Regions from separate parts of the Homo sapiens genome. Here region 2 is linked to region 1. Evidence: fine-mapped expression QTL. A gene starts in region 1. The other region holds a variant in brackets. All regions are shown on one strand. Distances are from middle to middle. Region 1 holds the start of ADAMTS9 (ADAM metallopeptidase with thrombospondin type 1 motif 9). Region 2 overlaps ADAMTS9 (ADAM metallopeptidase with thrombospondin type 1 motif 9).

Region 1 (2,913 bases):
AGAGGCGGTAATGCGCCTGGGAGGAGGTAGAGGAGGAAGAGGAGGAGGCGAAGGCAGGCCAGGGGTCAGTGGCAGAGTTAATGCTCCGTCGCGTTCTTTTGAAGTGGACGTTCGTGGGAAAGGGTTCTCCGAGAGCGTTCACTCGGATGGGAGACACGATTTCGTATTCGCTCAGGGTCTCTAATAATTTCACTGCGGAGAGAAGCAGAGGTATATGAACCAATAATTCATTTTTCCTTAAGCTTTAATTTAAAACGAAGGTGGGGACTTTGTTCTGACCTTATTTTCCAGCCCATTCGAGTCAATCCCTTCACCCTTAATCAGTGGACAAATATTTGCTGAGCACCTACTATGTGCCAGTAACAGGACCTGTGCTAGGTGCTGAGGATACACTATTCCGAGCCAGACAATTAACAAGTCAAAATATATATGATTTCAGATATTGATAAATAACCTGAATAAAATAAAACATGACGCTATCTGGTGCCCCCAATTACTAAGTTACTTTAGTTTGCGGCGTGGGAGTGGGGATGGGGATATATCTGGCAACAGCAAGGTAGGGGGGGGTTGCCTAAATTCGTTTCCATAGTGTCCCTCCCTAGCAATTGGTTGGGGATGACCCAAAGAAGGGAGAGGCTGCAAAGCGGGAGATAATTCTTTCTAGGAAAAGGAGAGAAGCCTCCGCTGCGGGGTGCCCCTGCCCAGGAGCGAGGACCGGGAGGCGGCGTCGGGGCCGGCGGGGTCCCGGGGGCCGGAGCCTGGTTACCTTGCCTCGGGTGCAGCCTGTCCTTGCGCACGGCCGCCGCGGCGTCTGGGCTCCCCATCTCGGCCAGGTCCCGCACCAGGAGCGTTAGCAGTGTGGCCCAGGATACAAACTGCATGGTGCTTCCCACCCCTCCCTCCGCTGCCCCCACCCCCCTCCCTCCTGCCCTCCTTGGCTGCGGCGGCGACGCGAGGCAGCGGCCGTGGAGAGCGCGCGGAGCCCGGCGCCCGCCGCCAACTTTTGACTTTAGGAGTCGCTGAGGTCTCGCTGCGAGGGTCCCGTCTGCGCTCGGCTGAGCAACGCCGCCGCCTGCCGAGAGCTGAGCCGCTCGGGCCGCAGGAGGAGCCGGAGGAGCAGGAGGAGGAGGAGGACTGGGGCTCGGCTGCTTGGCCGCATAATGCCCAGCGAGCGGGCAGGAGAAGGCGAGGAACTTGCGCTCCGAGGCGCGCCGGGCGCCCTGTGCTGGCCGGGATAGCTGAGCGGCTTCTTGAATGGGGGGCTGGGGGGGCGGAGGCGGGGGGGCCGCGGGTCCACAGCCTCTCAAATGCCCCCGGTGCACGCCTCTAAGAGGAGGAGAGGGGAGGAGAAAGCGAGACGAACGGGGACCGCCTCCTTCCAGACCATGTCCCCTCCTCGGCCGGCCCGTGCGGGACTCGCAGCCGGAGGCCCTGCCGGCTGCAAGAGGCGGAGGCCAGAGGCGTCACCAGCGCCGGGGCAGCTGTTCCTGGTCCCCGCCACCTCGCTGAAGTGGGGTTTTCTGAGATTCCCTGCCCCGGGGAGGGAAAGCAGGGAAAGTTCTCTCCCTTTCCTGGCGCGCGTGCAGCCACTTCCCCTCTCGTCTTTTTCCTCTCCTCTCCTCTCTCTCCTCCCTTCCGAGTCTCTTTTTCCTCCTCCCCCTTGTCTCTCTGCTGCTGTGCCTCTCGGACTCTGTCCCTTCTCCCCATTTTCCCCTGTGATGTCTGTCTTCTCCCCGCCCCACCGTGTCCCTGTCTGTTTCTCACATTTCTCCTTTTCCTTTCCTTTCTCTTCCGTCCCCATCTCTTGCCACCAGTCCCCATCTTTTGGTTTCTTACAAGTGAAAGTGGCCCAGCGCCGGAGCGCCTTCCCTTCCTACACTTTTTCATTCGGGAAGAGATTTGGCACCTGAGCTCCGCTCTCGATTTAATCACCCCAAGTCAAGAGTTTTAGAAATGGGGTTCTTAATCCTGCAGGTCGGAGTGTGTTTCTAATACGTGGTCTCTTGAAAATTTCGCAAAATATTTAAGCTGTGCTTTCCACCAACCTCTGTCACCATTCATGGAGGGTCCATAGCATTCTGTAGGTCCCCTGCCCCAAAAAAGGTTAAGAACAAATTTTGGCAGCAAGAAGGGGCGGGGACTCTGGCGCCCCTCACTACCAGGGGGTTTAGAGATGGGAGGGGAAGGGGGGATGGAGTGTAAAGTTGTAGATCCCTGTGGGAGGCACCAGTCCCTGGAGGGATTTCTCAATCACTTCCGCTTGCTTTCAGCCTGAGAGATGCTTGGAAAGACTGGGAAAGACTGAAAGCAGGCGCTTCAAGCTACACCTTCGTGTGTGTGTGTGTGTGTGTGTGTGTGTGTGTGTGTGTGAATTGTTCAATCTTGGGTGGTTCAGTGGCGCCTTTTCTTTAACCAGCCCTCAGGAAGATAGAATTTCAAGATAATTTCAAGAGGAAAGACATGACAATATCGTTAAAAATATATAAATATATGACTAATAAATATATATTTGCCCAAGTATCCTAGAACGGGGGTTGAGGTTCTGTTGCGTGGTAGGTTAGCACTCAGGACTAGAAATACCAAAGATTGCCAACACCAGGAACCAAATCGCAATATGCTAGCAATGTCAACTATTCTTGAGATACTAATACATATATTTCTTCTGGTGAAGGGTAAAAATGACTTGGCAAGACGAATTTGCTAAATAATTGTTAACCCAAATTGATAATGTTACCATCGTCTTATTACTGGAATTTCATAATGGATATGTAAAATGTAAGGATGGAAAAATAACATCTGTATTGTGCACAATTAGAGATTTTTAGAGAATGGCATTTAAACCTTGAACCTCCAAATTAATTCACTAAAATACGTTTCTTCTAATACACAATCTTTCTTTTTATTATAACAACA
Region 2 (2,913 bases), 22 kb before region 1:
TGGCAACTGTATGTTTCCTATCGCCACATCATAGGTATTACAGTTCTCACATTTTATTACAAGGACATGAGTTAATACAGGCTTTTGCAACTACTTTGGCGTCGATGCTCACAAAAGGGAAGTAGTCACGCTTACACTGCCACAAACAGCCAATGTTTGAAGAACTCATGCAATGAAGGGAGGGAGGCCCGATTTAAGTCCTATTTGACCTTGGGCAAATAACTGACTCCTGCTCACCCTCCGTCCTCCCACTTACAATGTGGAGTAAGAACAGTACCTATTTCATAGAGTGGCTTTGAGGAATAATTGGAGATCATGCATGCAAAGGGCTAGCACAGTGCCTAGTGCATAGGAACGAATGAATAAATATCATTATCATATTTTTCTATTTTTTGCCAGTCACAAAGTCATAAAGTGAGTTGGAACTAAAAGGAACCATTTAAGGTAGAGTGACTAAGTGTGCTTAAAAACAATTTTCTGGCTTACATTAACAATTTCAAAGCCATGAGCTGTATACTCCTAGTGGGGCAAATCAGCACAGAGTGTGCCTGATTGCATTTCTGACATCCAACTTTTTAATACTGTGAAAAAAGGAGGAACTACAAAACCAGAAGTGCTGAGGGCTGGTCTTCACCCTACTATCCCATATGAAGGCTCTTTTCTGAGTCACTTCTCTGGGCCTCAGTTTCCTGACCTTTAAATGGGCATATAAATACTTGCTTCCATCTTATGGCTATTTTGAGAATTAAATAAGAAAGCATATAGAGAATTTCTTATAAATTATAAGTTACATTTTTAAAAAAATTCACTCGTGGAACATCGATTTTGTGCCAAGTACTGGGCTAGATAAGTTGAAATAAACAACAGCAATGACAAAACAAGAATAAAACGTGGGTCCAATCTTTTAAAAAAAGGATTACAAAAATTTAAGATAGTATCCTTATTTTAAAAAACCTCACAGCAAAAAACTTTAACATCTGCTGATTTATTGGTAAAAATGTTTTAAATGAGCTTCACTTCACGTTGCAATACAATAAAATGCACAGTATGTTACTAAATAACTGGAATTATTTCAGCAAATACCAGCCAGGCCTC[G/A]TTATTCAGTGGTTACTCACTGAAGTGTTTCCTACCAAATGGGGTTGGGCCGAGGAGATCTGAATGTTAACATTAACAGTTGGAAAGTTAATTATTGCTCTCTATTTTGTAAGGTTTATCAAAATTTAACTGAGTTTCCTCAAGGCGCTGGGCTACCTTGTGACTTCACAGAGCACAGGACCAAAGGGAGGATTCAGGAGCAAGGCGAGACCCCTTTCTGCTCCACCCAAGCTTGACAGAGAGAAGGAAGTCTGCACAGGAATCATCTGTGGTGTTCCACTTGGATTCTGGAGCCAGGCCAACCCTGGTTTCCATTCCTCCCCTAAAGCTACTCTAGTTGCCCTTTCTTGTGTCATTTCCTTCTTTAAAGCCTCAGTTTCCTCATCTGTAAAATGATGGTAATAACAGCATACTGCAAAGAGTAACTGTGGAGATTAAAAGAGATAATACATAAAATGCCCTTAAAGCAGGGCATGACACAGAGGACAGGTCCAATACATATTTAACATAATAATAATTATTAGTGGTATTGTTTTACTTGTAGCATGCAAAACATCTGATCTTTATAAATTAGTATATTGACATTCTCAAACAAAACAATTTTGTTTTAGAAAGAATCTTTGATGGGGTGCAGTGGATCCTCCTGTAATCCCAGAAATTTAGGAGGTGAAGGCAGGAGGAATGCCTGAGGCTAGGAGTTCAAGACCAGCATATGCAACATAGGGATACCCTGTCTCAACAAAAATCAACCAAACAAATAATAGTGTGAGCTGTTGTTTTTTTGTTTTATTATTATTTTTTTAAGTGATGTGCCCAGTGTCAAGTAGTGCTACATGCACAGTGCTGACAGTAAATAAATACAAAGAGTGGTGGCAGAAGAGATTGTGGCTAAGACTCACTTTGGGCTGGCCTGAACCTTTATAAACTATGTTTCCATGAGAGTGGTTTATGGAACATTAGTCCCATAAGATAGTTCCAAAAACAAATCAATTAACTTTGCAAAACACTTAACACAGCATGCACATCTGGAACTTTCTCCATGCACATTAGCATTTTAAGAGCCCTGAGAAGTCTTGCAGGAAAGAAACCAGTTTACATGTGCTGAGTCGCATGATTGCCAAACTTACGGGATCTTTGCCAAGTTAAGAGGCAAGTGATGGGGACAGCACCATCACTAGAACTATAACAAGACGCAGGTGGGATGTGTGGATGGGCTTCCCTCTCAGGGAGAGAAGGGCGTGCGAGTGGAAGGCAACAACTGAGAAGCTTCTTGGCTTTTAAGGGGCGGTGGTGGGCAGTGGAAGGTGTCTGAGGGTCCCCTCAATACCTTCTAAGGGGGTGGGTGCCTCCAGCTACCTGGGGAGTTAAATTTGCTGACTTGGGCATGAGAGCTGGGTGCACTACCCCCAAAAGCCCTTCTGTGTCCTTTTCATTCTCCATTCTGTAGCTCCTTCAACTAAGTGTGATAACAACAATGACTATAGGCTATAATCATACTGGCCAACGTTTGTTGAGTTGCTTTTCTCTGTGTCAGGCACTCTCCTAAGCACTTCATATGGATTAACTTGATTATTCCTCAAAGCAACCCGATATGGTAGGAACTATTACCTTCATTTCAGAAATGAGGAAACTGAGGGACACTTGAAATAACTTGAGAAAATATTTAAAGTATCTATTTGAAGTAGTATAAGACGCTGAACATCCCAGGGCCTGTGTTTTACTAAGAGACTATTTAGTTTTGCTATTAATATCCTGCAAAGTACCCTTTAGGAAATGTTGGTTTCGATTCACTCCATCTCTTAGCAGTAGCGGGAGAGT

What was found. PIP is the estimated chance that this variant, and not a neighbour inherited with it, causes the effect. A credible set is the group of variants that fine-mapping cannot tell apart.
Region 2: its variant is the best candidate, but not a certain one, in a credible set for the expression of ADAMTS9 in fibroblasts (GTEx, PIP 0.58).

The regions. Positions count from the first base shown.
Region 1 is chr3:64,686,777-64,689,689 of GRCh38, forward strand. It overlaps ADAMTS9 (ADAM metallopeptidase with thrombospondin type 1 motif 9), which reads right to left and starts at 1,224. Exons shown (of 40, transcript NM_182920.2): 1 at 767-1,224; 2 at 1-192. The coding sequence starts at 881. The region is part of intron 1 of ADAMTS9-AS2 (ADAMTS9 antisense RNA 2); the gene reads left to right.
Region 2 is chr3:64,665,149-64,668,061 of GRCh38, forward strand. The region is part of intron 3 of ADAMTS9 (ADAM metallopeptidase with thrombospondin type 1 motif 9); the gene reads right to left. Among named protein-coding and RNA genes, the nearest start is that of ADAMTS9-AS2, 18 kb to the right of the region's middle. The variant G/A (reference allele first, on the strand shown) is at 1,096.